Linked DNA regions of Homo sapiens. The protein of the gene in region 1 binds, or shares a complex with, the protein of each later gene. Each region holds a gene or a part of one and is shown on either strand. Other genes may lie near its edges. The genes, in order: ADAP1 and KIF13B.

What was found.
Region 2: the proteins of ADAP1 (region 1) and KIF13B are in contact, whole or in part, in a crystal structure (PDB 3MDB), measured with the Homo sapiens proteins. Residues at the interface, in NP_006860.2 of Homo sapiens: Trp137, Asn143, Gly144, Gln145, Phe146, Leu147, Pro186, Ala187, Lys188, Ile189, Gly190, His191, Pro192, His193, Tyr211, Glu213; in NP_056069.2 of Homo sapiens: Val451, Asn452, Leu453, Asn454, Ala455, Asp456, Pro457, Leu463, Arg512, Phe514, Asn516, Gly517, Arg531, Leu533, Asn536, Asn537, Phe539.

The regions. Positions count from the first base shown.
Region 1 is NC_000007.14:928,505-938,636, reverse strand, and holds part of ADAP1 (arf-GAP with dual PH domain-containing protein 1), read left to right. Parts: intron 1-3,131; coding exon 3,132-3,262; intron 3,263-10,132. UniProt on the Homo sapiens protein: GTPase-activating protein for the ADP ribosylation factor family. Binds phosphatidylinositol 3,4,5-trisphosphate (PtdInsP3) and inositol 1,3,4,5-tetrakisphosphate (InsP4). Regulates the incorporation of CD63 and CD9 into multivesicular bodies.
Region 2 is NC_000008.11:29,258,057-29,268,102, reverse strand, and holds the start of KIF13B (kinesin-like protein KIF13B), read left to right. Parts: upstream 1-5,032; 5' UTR 5,033-5,068; coding exon 5,069-5,123; intron 5,124-10,046. UniProt on the Homo sapiens protein: Involved in reorganization of the cortical cytoskeleton. Regulates axon formation by promoting the formation of extra axons. May be functionally important for the intracellular trafficking of MAGUKs and associated protein complexes.

The DNA.
Region 1 (10,132 bases):
CCTCGCACAGCCACGTACCGAGCATTTGCGGCATCTTTCACCAAGGCTTCGGGAGAAGACGGAGCCCGGGGGGAGTCAGGTCTCTCTCTTCTGGGACTTCAGTGTGGTTCTTCCCCACCTGTTCTCCAGGGGTGTGTGTAACTAAATACTTTGCAGGCCAGACACGGCGTCACACATCTGTAATCCCAACACTTTAGGAGGCCAAGACAGGAGGATCGCTTGAGCCCAGGAGTTCAAGCCCAAGCTGGGCAACATAGAGAGACTTCATCTCTACCAAAAATTTTAAAAATTAGCTGGGTATGCTGGTGCATGCCTGCGGTCCCAGCTACTTGGAAGGCTGAGGCAGGAGGATCGCTTGAGCCCAGGCGTTGGAGGCTGCAGTGAGCTGTGAGCTGTGATTGCACCACTGCACTCCACCTTGGGCAACAGGGCAAGACCCTGTCTCAAAACAAAACAATACAATACAAGACAAAAAAAACCCCGCAAAACCAAACAACGGCTGATCCTGTAACCGCATTCTTTCTCCCAAAAGCCGCCCTACTCAGCACAGGCAAAACTCCTGGTACCCGAGACAGGGTCACTTGGGCAAATGTTTGACTGACTGAGGGGTGAGGAGAAAGCCTGTGGTCTCTCTCGAAGACAGGGGCTCTGCTGAAGTAGGGCTGTTAGTGGCCCCTTCATTCATGACTCCCGTGGAGACCTGCTCCGGACTGAGCTCTGTGCCAGATCCGGGGGTGCTGGGTCTGGGGTCCTCAAGAAGCCCACGTTAATGGGGAGACAGGCTTCATTAATCAGGGAGCCTAACAGCTGTGACAGAAAACCCCCAAATCCCAGAGGCCGGGCATGACCCCCAAATCCCAGATGTGCAGCGTGACCCCCAAATCCCAGAGGCCGGGCATGACCCCCAAATCCCAGAGGTCGGGCATGACCCCCAAATCCCAGAGGCCGGGCATGACCCCCAAATCCCAGAGGCCGGGCATGACCCCCAAATCCCAGAGGTCGGGCGTGACCCCCAAATCCCAGAGGCCGGGCGTGACCCCCAAATCCCAGAGGTCGGGCGTGACCCCCAAATCCCAGAGGCCGGGCGTGACCCCCAAATCCCAGAGGTCGGGCATGACCTCCAAATCCCAGAGGCCGGGCATGACCTCCAAATCCCAGAGGCCGGGCATGACCCCCAAATCCCAAAGGTCGGGCGTGACCCCCAAATCCCAGAGGCCGGGCGTGACCCCCAAATCCCAGAGGTCGGGCGTGACCCCCAAATCCCAGAGGCCCGGCGTGACCCCCAAATCCCAGATGTGCAGCGTGACCCCCAAATCCCAGAGGCCAGGCATGACCCCCAAATCCCAGAGGCCAGGCATGACCCCCAAATCCCAGAGGTCGGGCGTGACCCCCAAATCCCAGAGGCCGGGCGTGACCCCCAAATCCCAGAGGTCGGGCGTGACCCCCAAATCCCAGAGGTCGGGCGTGACCCCCAAATCCCAGAGGCCGGGCGTGACCCCCAAATCCCAGAGGTCGGGCGTGACCCCCAAATCCGAGGCCCGGCGTGACCCCCAAATCCCAGAGGCCGGGCATGACCCCCAAATCCGAGGTTCAGCCTGCTGGTTCTCACGCACCATCCCCGGCCGGGGGCTCACTTGGGTGCCTCTCCTCCTGGCAGTGACTCAGAGCCCAGGCCCAGCCCCAGCCCCACTGGGCCTCCGCCGCCTGGCATGGGAGTCCCCCACCAGCCAGGGGTGGGCCCCGATCAGCGTTGGGAGGGGGGCTATCCTCCGCCAGGCCTGAAGGGTGGGGTCCTCTCCACTCATGATTCCCCAAACAGGCTTGGGTCCACAGCCGCACCTGCTTGTGGGGAAGCGCCTCGATTTCCACCAGCCTCACCCAGGAGAGCCTCCACTTAAAAATAAAAGCAGTTCAGAGATGACTCATCTCCCCCAGAGAGACTGTTCTCTCTAGGGTGCCTTTCAGCCATTCCACTCCCTTGACTTATTGTGAAGGGTCGTTGGGAGCCAGAAGAAAACAGGAGAGTCACACAGCAGCCCTCTTAGCCATCGCCCCAGGGCGGGGCTGGACGCTCCCCACATTTTGCCGTTTCAGAATGAGACATTTCACACGTGCAGCAGCAGAAAGACTGCGCTGTGGCACCCACACCCTGGGCAGTGGCTCACGCCTGTCATCCCAGCACTTTGGGAGGCCGAGCAGGTGGATTACTTGAGGTCAAGAGTTCGAGGCCAGCCTGGCCAACATGATGAAACCCCATCTCCACTAAAAATACAAAAGTTAGCCGGGCATGGTGGTGCGTGCCTCGCTACTCGGGAGGCTAAGGCAGGAGAATCGCTTGAACCCGGGAGGCAGAGGTTGCAGCGAGCCGAGATCGTGCCATCATACTCCAGCCTGGGCAACAGACTATGTCTCAAAAAAAATTCTGCTCCCTCAGCCTCCCAAAGCGCTGGGATTACGGGCCTGAGCCACTGTGTCCAGCTTTGTTGGACCTTTTAAGGCAAACCAGACATCGAGACGTGGAATCCCTAGACAGGCCACATGCAGGGTGAAGCCACAGCGCCGCTGTCACACCTGCAAAGTTAGTGGCCGCCGGGCGCTGTCACCCCACGCAGGGTGCGTCGTCATCCGCGGCTACCATCCGTCCTTCGGGGGTGTGCAGCGCGTTGGGTGTGAGGCACCCCCTGCACTCAGATCCTATCTGAATTTCCCAATCTTGGCCCCATCACCCAGGAGGATTCGGGCCCACAGACTTCTCCCAGGGCAGCGGACACGAGGAAAGCAGGTGGACCCATCCTCACGAGTGCCGGGTGCCCTCCAGCCCGGGGCATGGGCTCCTGTGGGGCCGGCCTCTGCTGGAGGTTCCCGGCACCCGCGGGGCAGAGCAGGTGCATGCAGATCGGCTTCCTCAGATGCCGTGGGGTGTCTGGGGAGAGCCCCGTCTGCACCGGGCAGAGGGCGGGGGGGGAGCTGGGGTTAGGTGCCTGTGGGGCGCACGGAGCCTGGTGTACCCGGGGGTCTCCGCTGAAGCCCCCCCCACTGCATGGCCGGGGGCTCCTGACTCGAGGCTCCGTCCACCCTCCCTCCGGGGTCCCTGGGCTGAGCCTCCGTGAACGTCCGGCTTTCCCTTGCAGATCCCGACTGGGCCTCCTACACTCTGGGCGTCTTCATCTGCCTGAGCTGCTCGGGAATCCACCGGAATATCCCCCAGGTCAGCAAGGTGAAGTCCGTCCGCCTGGACGCCTGGGAGGAGGCCCAAGTGGAGGTACGGAGGGGGAGGGGCGGGGGGACCCGCGCAGTCCCCGGGTGGCCTCAGCCCGGGCCTCTGGAGCCAGAGATGCCGGGCGGCCTGGCTGTGGCCCCTGGAGCCTTGGGCTACTCTGGGGGCCTGGCTGGCTGGACCCGAGGACCCCGCCCCCTCTCCAGCGGCTCCGCCTGTGTGGCTGCTCCACCCACCCCGTGCCGGGTCCAACCTCTCTGTGAGCAGCTCCAGGTGTGTGTGGTGGGCCAGGGAGCGAAGGCGGGTCGCCGATTCCCGTGCCCTGGGAGCTCCGGAGTGCTCCCCTCAAATCCCCACACCTGGAGCACTGGGCTCAGGGTAAAAGAGACCCTGTCTCTAAGGAAACAGAATGCAGCGTCCCAGGCCGCGCGGCACGACCCAGAGTCAGGGTCGCATTTACACGGCAGTCCACGTGCACCCCGGCCCGCTGCCGTGTAGGGCACCATTACCTGTCCCCTGGGCGGCCTCTGAGGTGACACAGCCACTGCCCACCTCTCACCCATGCATCTGATGAGGCTTCACGGAGCACTTGGCATGGCCAGGCAGGGACACCAGCCACAGATGCTTCGTGGGGCCCTAGAGACGCCCCTATGGGGAGGGAGACGGGTGTGAGCCAACCAGGAAGCCCTGGCGTGCAGGGAGGGGCCACGCATGCTGGAGGCGGCAGGAAGGGCCCCGTAGGGAGACCCCGAGGGAGGTGGAGAAGGAACAAGACCCCGGCTGGGGGCTGCAGGTCGGATGGAGCGTGGGGCCTGAAGACCCGGTGGGAGGGTCACCCCAGCCCCACTCGTGGGACTTGGGGTCTGGAAGCCATTGATCTTCCTGACTGCTGTGAGTGGGACCGAAGGGCCGCATGGAGGTGAGAGTGGTGGTCTGGGGGCTGCTGTGGGGATGGGGAGGGTCGTAGAGGCTGGTGGCCTCCTGTACATGTCTCTCCCCTCTCCAGCACCATTGACCCTGGGCCCCCCCTCTCCAACACCACTGACTCTGGCACCCCCTCTCCAGGACCACTGATCCCAGCCCCTGGTTCTCCAGCACCACTGACCCCGGCTCCCGGCTCTCCAGCACCACTGACCCCAGTCCCCGGCTCTCCAGCACCACTGACCCCGGTCCCCGGCTCTGCACCACCACTGACCCCGGCCCCCGGCTCTCCAGCACCACTGACCCCGGCCCCCGGCTCTCCAGCACCACTGACCCCGGTCCCCGGCTCTGCACCACCACTGACCCCGGCCCCCGGCTCTCCAGCACCACTGACCCCGGCTCCCGGCTCTCCAGCACCACTGACCCCAGTCCCCGGCTCTCCAGCACCACTGACCCCGGTCCCCGGCTCTGCACCACCACTGACCCCGGCCCCCGGCTCTCCAGCACCACTGACCCCGGCCCCCGGCTCTCCAGCACCACTGACCCCGGTCCCCGGCTCTGCACCACCACTGACCCCGGCCCCCGGCTCTCCAGCACCACTGACCCCGGTCCCCGGCTCTCCAGCACCACTGACCCCGGTCCCCGGCTCTGCACCACCACTGACCCCGGTCCCCGGCTCTGCACCACCACTGACCCCGGCCCCCGGCTCTCCAGCACCACTGACCCCGGTCCCCGGCTCTCCAGCACCACTGACCCCGGTCCCCGGCTCTGCACCACCACTGACCCCGGCCCCCGGCTCTCCAGCACCACTGACCCCGGCCCCCGGCTCTCCAGCACCACTGACCCCGGCCCCCGGCTCTCCAGCACCACTGACCCCGGTCCCCGGCTCTCCAGCACCACTGACCCCGGTCCCCGGCTCTGCACCACCACTGACCCCGGCCCCCGGCTCTCCAGCACCACTGACCCCGGCCCCCGGCCCCCGGCTCTCCAGCACCACTGACCCCGGCCCCCGGCTCTCCAGCACCACTGACCCCTGCCCCTGGTTGGGAGTAGCTCATTTGCTTCTAACAGGCAGCCTTGGTGCATGGGTCACACCTGGAGGCTTGTTAGAAATCACAGCTGGGATCCCAGTGCCTCGACCAGGTGTGGGGGTGGTGCCTGTAATCCCAGCCACTCAGGAGGCTGAGGCAGGAGGATTGTTTGAGCCCAGGAATTCTTTTTTTTTTTTGAGACGGAGTCTGGCTTCGTCGCCCAGGCTGGAGTGCAGTAGCATGATCTCGGCTCACTGCAAGCTCCACCTCCCGGGCTCAAGCAATTCTCCTGCCTCAGCCTCCCGAGTGGCTGGGATTGCAGGTGCACGCCACCACGCCCGGCTAATTTTCGTATTTTTAGTAGAGAAGGGTTTCACCATGTTGGCAAGGCTGGTCTTGAACTCCTGACCGCAGGTGATCCACCCACCTCAGCCTCCCGAAGTGCTGGGATGACAGGCGTGAGCCACCATGCCTGGCTGAGCCAAGGAATTCGAGGCTGCAGTGAGTTGTGATTGCACCTTTGTGCTCCAGCCTGGGAGACAGAAAAAGACCCAAGGACAGCAGAGTCCCTGACCCACCCAGGGCGACCCCAAATCAGCTTCTGCACTTAATGCCGTGATCCCCCACACCCTGAGTTGAGGGCGTCCCTGCGAATCCCCTCAGGACCCCGGCCCACCTTGGGCTCACCGCCTTCGACCCACCTTCACTGACCTGGGTGGGGGACACTGGGATGTGATATCCGTCCCTTCGCCCTTCGACCCACCTTCACTGACCCAGGGGGGGACACTGGGATGTGACATCCATCCCTTCGCCAGGCTGTGGGCTTGTCTGAGCCTCCGTTTCCTTCCCTAAAAAATGGGCAGGGTGGCCCCTGGACCATCCCCCTCCCCGGACAACAGGGGACCAATGTCAGAAAGATGATGGGACGGGTGTCCCGTCTCCAAGTTGCTCTGCCATCACTCCTGGAGGAAACAGCCCTGAGTCCCTGGAGGGCCTCCAGGGGCACAGACTCCTTGGCTCGGGGAGAAGACGTGGCTATTGTCCCCATAATTCCAGGGCAAACGGGGCAAGGGCCCAGGGGTGGGGCGTTCACTGTTGTTGGAAAAACCCTAAATGTAATCAGCGGGAGAGGACAGGGGCCAACTTGGTGCTGTCCTGATCTGCCTGGGGTGATGGCCGGAGAGGAAGGCTGGAGAGGAAGGCTGGGGAGGGCCCACCGTGGGTATTACCAAGAAACCCCTGATTCCTGCCGCAGAGGTCTGGTGCGATGGGGCCTTTGGGAGAGCACTGAGCTGGGGGCCACAAGGAGATTCCATCCCCATTCTGTTGTCTGCACGTTCACTGGTGCGATAAAAACCAAAGATGAATCTCAGGCAGGCCTGGGGGCTTGTCTCCTGAGAGCACCTGCACCCCGGCCCCCAGGCAGGGCTGGGTCTCAGCCCGGCTTCTTGCTGGGGACTCTGTGGGGCGGGAGCTGCACTGGGCCCCCCCTGGCTCCCTGCACTCAGGCCCCTTGGCCATTCCTGGGCTGGTGGTCAGCGGGGACATCCGGGGGCTAAGCCTGCTCCCACCCCTAAGGGAGAAACGGGCCTGAGGTGGCCGTTGCTGAGGACCGGACCGAGGTTGAAGGGCCAGGAACCAAAGATTCTTCTCTTCTTTCCTTTTCTTCACATTTTATGTTTTTTTTTTTTTTTCTCCCTACTTTCTATTCCTTGATAATACCTTTTAAAACAACTGCTTCCTAGAGATGCCGTTCACAGCCATACATTTCACCGTGTAAAGGGCACAGTTGAAGGTTTTTTAGTAAATTCAGAGTTGTGCAACCTTCGCTGAAGCCAATATTAGGACATTTTCATCACCCCAGAAAGGAAGTCCGTGCCTTTTGGCTCTTACCCCCGCCCAGCCCAAAGCAGCTGCAAATCCACTTTCTCTCTGTGTAGATTTGTGGGTTCTGGACTTTTAAAAACGGGATCGCACGGCGTGTGAGCTTCGGCGTCCGACTCCTTTCCCGCGGTGCCAGGTCCCCGAGGCCCATCACGCTGCAGCCTGTGTGACAGCTTCGTTCCTTTCAAGGCCGGAGAACATGCCTTGTGTGGATGGAACACGTTTGCTTTATTCATTCACCCTCTGATGGACACGTGGGTCGTCTCTACCTTATTTAATGTATTTCGACAATTTAGTGACACATTCAGCAGTTTCCAAGGACAGTCACAGAAGGGAGCTGTCTCCTTCCCTGTCTCCCACCTTTGAGCACCGTCCCCACCCTGGCCAGGCAGCCAGGGGTCTGTGTGGGCCTCGCTCCCTCCCTCCCTCCTTCCTTCCCTCCTGTCTTCCTTTCTTCCGTCCCTCCCTCTGTCTCTCCGTCCCTCCGTCCTTCCTTCCGTCCTTCCTTCCCTCCTGCCTTCCTTTCTTCCCTCCCTCCCTCCCTCAGTCCCTCCGTCCCTCCCTACCCTCCTTCCTTCCTTCCTTTCTCTTTTTTTTTTTTTTTGAGACACAGTCTGACTCTGTCGCCCAGGCTGGAATGCAGTGGCACTATCATAGCTCACTAAAGCCTTGAACTTTCAGGCTCAAGTGATCCTCTTGCCTCAGCCTCCCAAGGAGTAGCTAGGACCACAGGCATACACCACCGTGCCTGGCTACTTTTTTTTTTTTAGAGACAGTCTCACTGTCTCCCAGGCTGGAGTACAGTGGTGTGATCTCACCTCACTGCAACCTCCACCTCCCACATTCAAGCGATTCTCCTGCTTCAGCCTCCCGAGTAGCTGGGATCACAGGTGTGTGCCACCATGCCCAGCTAATTTTTGTATTTTTAATAGAGACGGGGTTTTGCCATGTTGGCCAGGCTGGCCTTGAACTCTTGGCCTCAGGTGATCCATCCCCCTCGGCCTCCCAAAGTTCTGGGATTACAGACGTGAGCCACCGCGCCAGCCCTGGCTAATTAAAAAAAAAAATTTTGTAGTGATGGGGTCTTGCTATGTTGGCCAGGCTGGTCTCAAACTCCTGACCTCGTGATCCGCCCGCCTTGGCCTCCCAAAGTGCTGGGATTACAGGTGTGAGCCACCGCGCCCGGCCCTGTGTTTTCTTGCCTGTGAACTCTCTTCACACCTTTGCCTGCCTTTCTGCTGCAATGTTAGCTGTTTTCATCTTCTAGGGGTTGCTGGTATGTTAGAGAAATTAATCTGAGATACCAAAAACATTTTTTTCTAGGTTGTCTTTCGAATTTGCTCATGGTGGTTTTTGCCGTGGAAATTTTTACTTCGACATAGTCAAAGTGGTCAGCGTTTTATTTTGTGGTTTTAGGGTCTATAGCATACATAAATAGGCCTTCTCTGCCTGAGGGTTTTTTTTTTTTTTTTTTTTTTTTTTGAGACAGTCTTGCTCTGTCACCCAGGCTGGAGGGCAGTGGCTCAATCACAGCTCAGTGCAGCCTCAAGCTCCTGGGCTCAAACGATCCTCTCACCTCAGCCTCCTGAGTAGATGGAACTACAGACGTGCACCACCACGCCTGGCTAATTTTTGTATTTTTTGTAGAGACGGGGGTCTCACTATGTTGCCCAGGCTGGTCTTGAACTCCTGGCCTCAAGTGATCCTCCCGCCTCAGTCTCCCAAGCGCTGGGATTACAGGCTTCAGCCACCACACCCAACCCTGAAGGTTATTTTTTAATAACAGCTTTGTTGAGGTATAATCCACATACAATTCACTCCCGTAAAGCGTACAGTTCAGTAGTTTTAGTGAAGCCACAGGGCTGCACGACCATCACCACTGTCTAACTTCAGGACATTTTAACGTCCCAACACAGCCGGTACTCACCACCCCTCCCATCACCACCGCCCCAGCCGTTACTGAATGTAGACAGAGCTGCTTTGTGTCTCTGTGGATTTGCTTGTTCTGAACATTTCAAACAGATGGAATCATGCAATACGTGGTCTTGTTTTTTTTTTTTTTTTTTTTTGAGACAGGGTGTCACTATGTTGCTCAAGCTGGTCCCGAACTCCCAGGCTCAAGCGATCCTCCCACCTCAGCCTCCCAAAGTGCTGGGATCACAGGTGTGAGCCACCACGTGCGGCCGATTCGTGGTGTTTTGTGTCTGGTTTCCTCCATGGGCACCGTGTGTCCAAGGATCGCCTGGGTTGTAGCGTGTGTCAGAATTGTGTTGCTCTTTTTTTTTTTTTTTTGAGATGGAGTCTCGCTCTGTCAGCCACGCTGGAGTGCTGTGGCACGATCTCTGCTCACTGCAACCTCTGCCTCCCGGGTTCAAGCGATTCTCCTGCCTCAGCCTCCCGAGTAGCTGGGATTACGGGCGTGCACCACCACGCCCGGCTAATTTTTGTATTTTCAGTAGAGACGGGGTCTCACCGTGTTGCCCAGGCTGGTCTTGAACTCCTGACCTCGTGATCTGCCCACCTCTGCCTCCTGAAGTGCTGGGATGACAGGCGTGAGCCCCCGCGCCCGGCCGGCATTCCTCTTTATGGCCGAGGAACCCTCCATGGTGTGGCTCGATCACATTTAGTTTATCTGTGGTTCCGTTCACGGAGCTGGGGCTTGTTCCCGTTCTCAGCTGTCACGAAGAATGTGCTGTGAACACTCATGTGCATGTCTCTGCGTCTTCGCGTCTCTTACGGTGCAGAGGAATCGCTGGACTCTATGGTAACTCTGTGTTTACCGTTTTGAGGAACTGCCAGACTGTTAGTCACCAGAGCCGGAGGTTCCCACCAGCAGCGTGCGGGGGCTCTGATCACTCCACATTCTCTCCAGCTCACTCCCCTGTGCCACTTTGACCTTGCCATCCTAGTGGGGAGAGGTGGTAGCTCATTGAGGTTTTCATCTGCGTTCCCCTGACAGCTAACAGTGTTGAGTGCCTTTGCGTGGCCGAGTGGCCATTTGTGCATCTTCTTTGGAGAAATGTCCGATCAAATCCTTCCCCATTTTTAGGCCGAGGTGGGACGATGGCTTGAGCCCAGG
Region 2 (10,046 bases), on another chromosome or scaffold:
TGACACAGCAAGACTCCATCTCAAAAAAAAAAAGATAGGACAAAGTGACTTCTATAGCCTATGAAGGGACCATCAGAAACTACTGAATGGGTAGATCAAAGCCATAAAAAGAAAACTAGAAATCAGTTTAGGAATGAGCAGATTTGCAAAATGTGAGGGCAAAAAATGAGAAACTCCTTATCTGCACAGCTAAAATTCAACAGCTCTATCAAAATGGCTATAGAATCTACACCATAAATACTTGTTGATTTCCTAAGTACTTGCTTTAAGAAACAGGTACAAGGGAATGCCTTATTTACTAGTTCTTTGTTTCTTTTTCCTCTAATAGTTGAAAAGAGAGAAACTGGCCAGGTGCAGTGGATCACACCTGTCATCCCAGTACCCTGGGAAACCGAGGTGGGCGGATCACCTGAGGTGGCGAGTTTGAGACCAGCCTGACCAACATGGCGAAACCCCGTCTCCACTAGAACTACAAAAATTAGCCGGGCATGGTCGTGGGCGCCTGTGATCCCAGCTACTCGGGAGGCTGAGGCAGAAGAATCACTTGAGCCCAGGAGGAGGAGGTTGCAGTGAGCCGAGACTGTGCCACTGCATTCCAGCCTGGGCGACAGGGCGAGACCCTGTCTCGGAAAAAAAAAAAAAAAAGAGAAAAAAGAGAGAGAGAAAAACCAGGACTTTTCTCTCTGTCTTGCTGGAGCCTGTGCTGAACCCTGAATCCTGTTGATAGTTCTCCAATTTCATTTGGTGTTGAAGCCCCTGAAACTCCCAGGCTGCAGGTTGTAACTTGCAATTTGGTCCTCTGTCTCCCGCCTATCAGAGGAACACTTTCCATGGGAAGATATGGGCATTTCTAGTCTTGGGCTCTCTCTCTTTTTTTCTTTTTCTTTTCTTTTCTTTTTTAGAAGACGGAGTCTCACTTTGTCGCCCAGGCTGTAATGCAGTGGCGCGATCTCAGCTCACTGCAAGCTCTGCCTCCCAGGTTCACGCCATTCTCCTGCATCAGTCTCCGGAGTAGCTGGGACTACAGGTGCCCGCCACCACGCCCAGCAAATTTTTTTTGTATTTTTAGTAGAAACGGGGTTTCGCTGTGTTAGCCAGGATGGTCTCCATCTCCTGACCTTGTGATCCACCCGCCTCGGCCTCCCAAAGTGCTGGGATTACAGGCGTGAGCCACCGCGCCTGGCTGGGCTCTCTTTTAAGAATCATCTTCACTGCAAAAGTCAAAGGAGACAGAGTAGTATGAACAGAAGTCAAAAGGGGAAACAGCTCACAGGGGTTCTTCCCTGCAGTCCCTAGGGAGGCTACTGTCCTTTTCCTCTAAATATTTTCAGAACATTTTAAATGGTTTTGAGGACTTTAGAGAAAGTCCTCACTTCTTCTCTATTCTATTCTTCCCTTCCTTGAGGTCCTTAGGGGCTTTCCTCTCTTTTCAGTTTCAGCTTAAGTTTAAACACAATATTTCCATAGAAATGTTCTCTTGTTCTCTTTTTCTGCCTGCTTTGACTCTGTTTAAAAAGCCAGATTCAAGCTAGCACCAGGACGTGCCATTTAAAAATTAAATTTACCTGGTTATAAAAGAGATATAAAGTGACGTATGGAATCTTGGGACATTCCAAATCCTTATTTTTTATAACCTGAATGTAGGGAGGTGGTAATTAGGATGTGTGTTTAAGACAAGAGTACCAACCTGTGGTAACCAGTCTGGGGCCATGGCAAAGGTGACTTCAACACTAAATAAGAGCAAAAGAACAGTAGGGCAAAACAATTTCAATATAAAATCATACCCTTTATGATCTTTTTTAAAAAAAAAAAAAGATAGTGATGGTAGATAGTAATTTTTGTGTGCATTCTTTTTCAAATAATTTACTCGGTGACCTAGCACAATGGCTCACACCTGTAATTCCAACACTTTGGGAGGCTGAGGTGGGAGGATCACTTGAGGTCATGGGTTCAAGACCAGAGTGGGTAACATAGCGAGACACTGTTTCTACAAAAAATTTAAAAATCAGCTGGGCATGGTGGTGCATGCTTGTAGTCCCAGCTACTTGGGAGGCTAAGGTGGGAGGATCGCTTGAGCCTGGGAGGTTGAGGCTGCAGTGAGCTAAGATGGTGCCACTGCACTCCAGCCTGGGCACAGAATGAGACCCTGTCTCAAAAAAATATATACTTGCTAAAATTAAGAAGCTGTCATAGTGTCAAACACTGAGATTGGCAATCCTAATTTGGTTATCCTGATGTTGTTTACTTTATTGGGCTGTGAAAATCAAAGGACCTGCTGCACTAAACCCACTGCTGGTCTAGATGAGACCTCCTGAAGTGCAGAGGCAGTGCCCCTAAGAAAGAAATTTCCTTTTTTAAAAAAGAGGGCCTTCTGGGGTAGCATTTTCTATTTTTAACCTTTTTTGAAATTTTGATAAAAAACACGTAACATAAAACTTACTATTGGCCAGGCACAGTGGCTCACACCTGTAATCCCAGCATTTTGGGGGGGCTGAGGTGGGTGGATCACTTGAGGTCAAGAGTTTGAGACCAGCCTGGCCAACATGGTGAATCCCCATCTCTATTAAAAATATAAAAATTAGCTGTGTGTGATGGTGCACACCTGTAATCCCAGTCACTCTGGAGGCTGAGGCAGGAGAATCACTTGAACCCAGGAGGCAGAGACTGCAGTGAGCAGAGATCATGTCACTCACTGCATTCCAGCCTGGGCGACAGAGCAAGACTCCATCTCAAACAAACAAACAAACAACAACAAAAAGCTTACCATCTTGGCTGGGTGTAATGGCTCACACCTGTAATCCTAGTGCTTTGGGAGGCTGAAGTGAGGAGGATTACTTGAGGCCAAGAGTTCAAGACCAGCCTGGACAACATAGCGAGACTCCATCTCTACCAAAAAATGAAATATAAAAATTAGCTAGGTGTCGTGGTGCGTACCTGTAATTCCATCTAGGTGAGAGGCTGAAGCAGGAAAATCGCTTGAGCCCAGGAGTTTGAGGCTGCAGTGAGCTATGATCACACCACTGCACTCCAGTCTGGGCAAACAGAGCGAGATCCTGTCTCTAAAAAAACCCAAAAAACCTTACTGCCTTAACCACTCTTAAGTGGTTAGGTGGCGTTAAGTACATTTACATTGTTGTGCAACCATCACCACCATTCATTTCCGCAGCTGAAATCTTCCCAAGCCGAATCTCTGCACCCATTGAATACTAACTCCTCATACCCCCTTCTCCTAGCCCTTAGTAACCTCCAGTCTACTTTCTATCTCCATGAATTTGACTACCATGTGTATCTCATATATGTAGAACCATGCAGTGGTTGTTCTTTTGTGTCTGGCTTATTTCACCTAGCATAATGTTTTCAAGGCCCATCATCCATGTTGCAGCATGTTTCAGAATTTCCTTTCTTTTAAAGGTATTTTTAGACCGGACACAGTGGCTTATGCCTGTAATCCCAGCACTTTGGGAGACTGAGGTGGGTGGATCACCTGAGGTCAGGAGTTCGAGACCAGCCTGGTCAACATGGCAAAACTACGTCTCTACTAAAAATATGAAAATTAGCCAGGATTGGTGGCACATGCCTGTAATCCCAGCTACTGTCGAGGTTGAGGCATGAGAGTCGCTTGAAGCCAGGAGGTGGAGGTTGCAGTGAGCCGAGATCATGCCACTGTACTCCAGCCTGGGTGACAGAGCTAGATCCATCTCAAAAAAAAAAAAGTATTTTTATACTTTTTGACAACATTGCTTGTATTGAAGATACTCAATAACAGGATGGTTGGTAAAAGGGCAAGTCTTACCAGCTTTCTGTATTTACTCATCTGTAAAATGGTTCTGAGTTCTATTACTATCATTTAAACACATCTAAGCAGGGGTCACAAACCCACAAGGTCCAGGCGCATGTGTGGTAAAGCCACCTGGAGGGGGGCCGTGGTGAAGTGGAGAGACGGGTCTCTGATAAAGGTGGCTGCTGCTATTTAGTTCCAATCCACTCTGTCCAATATGTAATGTAGGCCCAGTACTGCATGCACAAATCTGATTTCACACTCTGTTACCCAAGCTGGTCTCAAACTCCTGGCCTCAAGCAATCCTCCTGCCTCAGCATCCTAAAATGCTGGGATTCCAGGTGTGAGCCCCTGCACCTGGCCACAAATCTGATTTTTATGTGTTGGCCAACACTGTTGGGCCAAACAGAACATGTTTGCGTGCTGGCTCTGGCACCCAGGCCACCTGTTAGAATGTCTGCCAGGGCTAATAAAAAGCTAATTTTAGTGTGGCCTCATTCATTAATTCATGCAATTAATGTTTATGGGTCTCTACTAAAGGCTAGGTTACACATATGTTAATCTTATTTAAAAATGTACCTATTTTACTAGGTATTAGTATCATATCCACTTTTCATATTAAAGACAAGCCCAGAGCGGTCAAATAACTTGCCCCTGGTCACACAGTGGGAAGCGCTGAGGTGGGCTTTGAACTCAGATGGTTTTCAGAGCCCAAGGTCCTGTCTCAAAGGAGGGGGACTCACAGGACAATGTTAACCCGTGGACCTATGGACACTCCCAGAAAACGTGATTTGCAACTTGTCGTGAAGGACGAGCTCAGCAAACAAGGCCGGACGTCAATCCAGGCAGAGGAAATAACTTGAGCCAGGGATCAAACACTAAGATTGGCAGGAAATGAGCAGGAAGAGGTAGCGGGGTCCCTGACGCCATCTATTCAATTGTTTTTCAGAAGAGGTATCAGCTCTTGAAGGCTTACTTCTCAATACTGGCTGCGAGAGCAAGAATGGTGTGTAATTTACAAAAGCCGTCATTGCTGTAGGTAAGTTGTAGCAAACGACTCGCGCCCGAGCATTCCCGCCCCCGCCTTCGCTGCGGCCCCGCCCACGACGACCCTGGGGAACTACAAGTCCCGCCATACAGCGGGGAGCGCCCGGAGCTCGCGCCGGCCCCGCCCCCAGCCCGGTCCCCACCCCCGGCTCCGCCCCCGGCCCCCTCCCGCCGGGTCAACCCCGAAGAGTCGCCGGTGGCCGCGGCAGACGGAAGCCGAACGAGTTCCTCGGCGGCTGCAGGATGGGGGACTCCAAAGTGAAAGTGGCGGTGCGGATACGACCCATGAACCGGCGAGGTGAGAGCCGAGCCCTCCTGGGCCGCCGGGGCGGAGGCGGCAGGTGCCTGGCGCGCCCTTCCCTCGGCCGCCGTGGGGGGTCCGGCGGCCCCGCCCCTATAGTCAGCGGCGGGGCGCGAGGAGGGGCCCGGGGACCCTGAAACCCGCTCCCGCGCTGAGACGCCCGGCTCCCTCTTCTCCCCTCCCTTCCCCCCTGGCCAGCCCCGTCCCTGGCGCCGTCGGGCCCCTCGTGCCGGCCCCGCTGCCCCTTCCGCCTGCGCCCGCCCCGCCCCTGCGCCCTTTTGCCCTCTCGTCTCCCCCGGAGGTTCCCGAGGGCGCCCTCGGCCCTCGCGCCCAGCCTCGTCCTGGCCCCTCAGCCTCGCTCCTTCCCCGCCAGCTGTCATCGTCGCCCCCGCGCGCGGGTCGCCAGCCCCTGCAGCCCGCCTCGGGACCGCCCGGGACCCCCCGGGACCCCGCGTCTCGCCCGGGTCGCCCAAGCCTGCACCGCCTTGGCCCGCGGCGGGAAGAAGGGCAGGGGGCCAGGCGGGTGCCCCGCGGCGAGTTCCTTCCACCTGGGCGTCCTGAGATTGGGGTCAGGTGGAGGAGATGCCCTTTTCGTTGTTTTTGGACAGTTGAGAAAGTTTTGGTTTTGCCTGAAGTCTCATTCATCATCTCTCAATAAATAGCTAAAGTGCCAAGATTCTTGTGGAATTGTATCTTTCTGACATTCTCTTAACTCTGCAGGGAGTGTAGAGAAGGCAGATAAACCGAGTACATTTAAATAATCTGTAGACCCGGGGAGTGGAGAGAACCCCAAAAGTCAGGGGAGGAGGTGGGCTGGGTCTTGGCTTTGATAGTCAAAGCAGCATGACTGGGTGAGTTGCTTTAAATAAGATAATGTGTTTGAAAACGCTTTATATACAAGGTCCTGTCATTGGGGGTCACTATTACTGTCTCAGGAGATGACTTTGCCATTGATGAGACTTTGAACTAATTAGAATCATTTAAGTACCAGAGACAAAGTTGTAGCTTCTTAGCAAAATCAAGTGTTGTTTAATTTTTATGTAGAAATTATAGGTTGTTTTCCTCTTCTTTGCTTTCTTTTGTATATATTGAGACATACAGATCAACCAGTTGACATAAGCTTTGTTGGTTTGTCCTTCTCGGGGAAATTGGTTTCTCGCTTGGAGTTATCTCATCTATGGGAATTGTTTTGTCCTGTTCCTGCTAGGTCCGATTAAAGCTGTCAGGTGAGTTTTTTTCCCTAAGAACTTAATTACTTTAAGTTCTCAACTAGTGCAAGATTGAGTCCTGCTTTGCTTCACTAATCTCGTGCTCTGACAACACACAATAAACGTCGATACAATTCTGAAAATTTTCAGAAGCATCAGTTTTTAAATATTCAGGTATCTGTATTTCAGTTTACTTCCAGTTTACCATCACAATAATTTAAAGAAAGAAGCCAAATGAAACATAACTTATCTGGGAATTGATTCTGAAAGGATGGTTTCAGCACATTCTTAAAATTTCCTTTTCACAAAAAACTTGGAAATGTCAGTGCTAAAAAGAGGCCGCTAACCAACCACCACAAAAGACATCTCAGATATTTAGAGCCCTTTCCCTCTCCCTTTCCCCATTGGTTTCACTTTTTGAGGGAAATTCTTATGCTTTTCTCTTATAAATTGCCATTGATAAGGTTGTAATAAACATCAGAGTTTAGAGGAAGGCAAAGAATAATAGTTTTAGCTGTGGAACGGATGTGAGCTGATCCTTGGGTTCAACAATCATTTTGAAATTGAGGTTTACCCATAGATTCCATTAGCCTATATAGAGAAGTGCATTATTTGGTGTAAAGTACCTCCTGTGTTCACTTAGTGCCCATTCTTAGCCTTATATTTCCTGACGTGCATGTGGACTTCTTTTTTCAGTGATTACCACACATAAATTTGTTCTTTTCCATTTTTGTTATGAAGTAATTGTTCACATAAATATAAAGGTTATTATGGAATACAGTGTGGTGGGATTGTAAATCCAGTGATTTTTAAAAATTGGTGTCCAAAGTTTGTATAAAAAGACTAAAACAGGCCAGGCACGGTGGCTTACGCTTATAATCCCAGCACTTTGGGAGGCCGAGGCGGGTGGATCACCTGAGGTCAGGAGTTCGAGACCAGCCTGCCTAACATGGCAAAACCCTGTCTCTACTAAAAATACAAAAAATTAGCCGGGCGTGGTGGTGGACGCCTGTAATCCCAGCTACTAAGGAGGCTGAGGCGGGAGAATAGCCTGAACCCAGGAGGCGGAGGTTGCAGTGAGCCAAGATCGTGCCACTGTGCTCCACCCTGGGCGACAAGAGTGAAACTCTGTCTCAAAAAAAAAAAAGACTAAAACAAAACCATATTTCTTTCCAGTAATTTCCTTTTTTTTCTTCCTTGTATGATCTGTAGGAACCTTTCCAGTAATTTTGAAAAGAATATTACTTTGAACAGTTATTAGTATTATGTAATACTGTATAATTATGACAAAGAGTAAAACTTGAGTCCTAATAGTTTCTATCATATAGGTGCCGGAAGCAACCTTATAAATCGCTATCTATAAAAGAGGACGGGGATGAGAATGGGTTACTGTGATGATGTAGTTTTACTGTGTAGACTCTGATATTTGGAATCACATTAGCTATCTTTTGAGGAAAATCTGAAAATTTCCAGAAAACTCTGGTGTATTAAGTTCTTGTGTGATTCAGTGGTTGTGCTTAGGTGTTTGGAGTTTTAAGGTGGTTAGCTGATTTATTATTTAACAGTTATCCTCGAAGTGAGAGTATTTTAGTCTTTCTGCTAAACTGTATGTGGGTTTGGGAACCTTAGTTATTTGAAGGTTAAGCATTAGGCCCTAATTCAGTAACAGGAAGAGTTGTAATGGCTAATTTGTCAGAAATATTTGTCTAGTCATACATTTATTTTAACATTCCACTAACAAAAGGAAAAAGAAAAAGAAAAAAGTTCACATACTTTCTTCATCCTAACAGCTTTTCATTTCCATGCCAGTTTGTGCTCACACGTGTATGTAATTTTACATAATTTTAATATTACAACCTTTATTTTGCCTTTCTTCATCTGAGATGCAAAGCTAAACAACTAGAGAAAAGGGTAAATTTTTGTCACAAGATCTTCAAGTTCTATTTGCAGATATCGTTTGTTTTCCAGTGTTGTTGTTCAGACTGTACAGCTAAACAGATAATTCTTGTGTGCTTCCATGTGCCGCACAGAACACCCATTCATACATTATTAACCCGTCTAATCATTACAGGAGCTGAAAGTTCTGTAGCCGTAATTGGTGGGATTAGTTAGATCAGCAACATTCTCCTTTCCAGGAATTTGATGTTTTCTAACTTTAGGTGGCTTAAAAAACATTTAATAGGTAAGCAAACATTGATTGAGTGCCTGCCAGGTATCTGGCTTATATTAGATAGGATGAGATCTTAATGCTTTTCCTCAAGGGATTTCCTGTGTGTAAATCTGTATAAGATCAACTACCAAAATAAGTAAATATCTATAAAAGGTGTTTGGAATACCTTTGTTACCTACCTAGCCTAAGGGGGTAGAACCGGGAAACGAAAGAAATGAAGATAGAAACAGTGAAATAGATTATTTCAGGTGTTAGGGAGAATGGACAAGAAATTTATTTCAGGAGATATTTCAAATGAGTTTACTTGGCATTTTCCAATACTTGATGTGGTGAAAGACACAGAAGTATGTAATAATGTCTAATAGAGTCAATGTAGAGTCAGTGCCTTGGTAATCATGATCTAGTATCTCAATGGAGGGACTATTATACAGCGATTAAAATGATGACAGTCAAAACCATTTAACAAGGAAGATCGTTTTCTCTGTTAGTGGAAAAAGAATGTAAAGCTGTACGTGTAACTGATCAAATCTATTATTATTACTATGTAAAAATGTATACAGGAATGGGCAAGAGCTAGAAAGAAACATGAAAAAGTGAAATTGATTGTTCTTGTTAGGGGGATTTTACTTCCTAAAAGTTTTCTTAGGGTTGCCTGTTACCATCATATTCAGTTTCTTAAAGCATGCTTTATGGTTCATGCCTGTGAGGAAATGACTGTCATGGGCTTGAAAAGAAAATGCCTGTGAAAAGATTAGATTAAAAGGTAAACAGCTGTAGCAGGCTGCTAGTTACTAAGTGCCAGGTGAATGACAGGGAAATAAGGGAATCGAGAGGAGTTTAGACTTCACTGAGGAGGGTGAACTTTGGTTGGACTTCCAGGGAGGAAGCTTATGATGTGAGCACGGGAGAGGGGATGGCATGTATTCTTTGAGGAGGAAGTATGGCCTGAGAGTGAGGACACAGAGACTAGAATGAGTAAAGCAGGTTTAGGCAGCAGAGATGAGATCTGCCTGCCAGAATGGAGATTCTGTGAGGATAGCTAGAGAATGATGGGACAGGAAAGGTCAGGTGGATTGCAGGAAGCCCTGAAAGCAGCCAGGCCAGAAGTCCGGACCTAGGGTGGCTGGTCCACGCACTCTGTTTTGCTTCTTGGGACCTTGTATGGGGCTTGGACACAAACACAACGGGGAAAGATTGCTAGATCCCAAAGCAAGATTGGAAGCTTCAGTAGATGACCGATTTCTGGCATAGCTGGGCAGGATTTAAAAGCGCTTGCTGAAAATGAAGCCTTGTGAATGGGAAGCATAAGGAAGTCGGTCAAAATTAAGCAGCTGTGAATCAACAGGCAAAGGAAAAACCCAGCAAGTGCGAGGAAGCTTAGAAGATGCTGGTAGTCAGTGAAGATAGAGGTGACCCTTAGGAAATGAAGGGACAGGAGAAGGTGGCTTTGACCCCTGGGGTCATTGGTGATTCTTCAGTATTCTCAGAGAGATCACTGACAGATGTGGAGCCAAGGAGGACCGTGGATGGAAATTTCTGGCA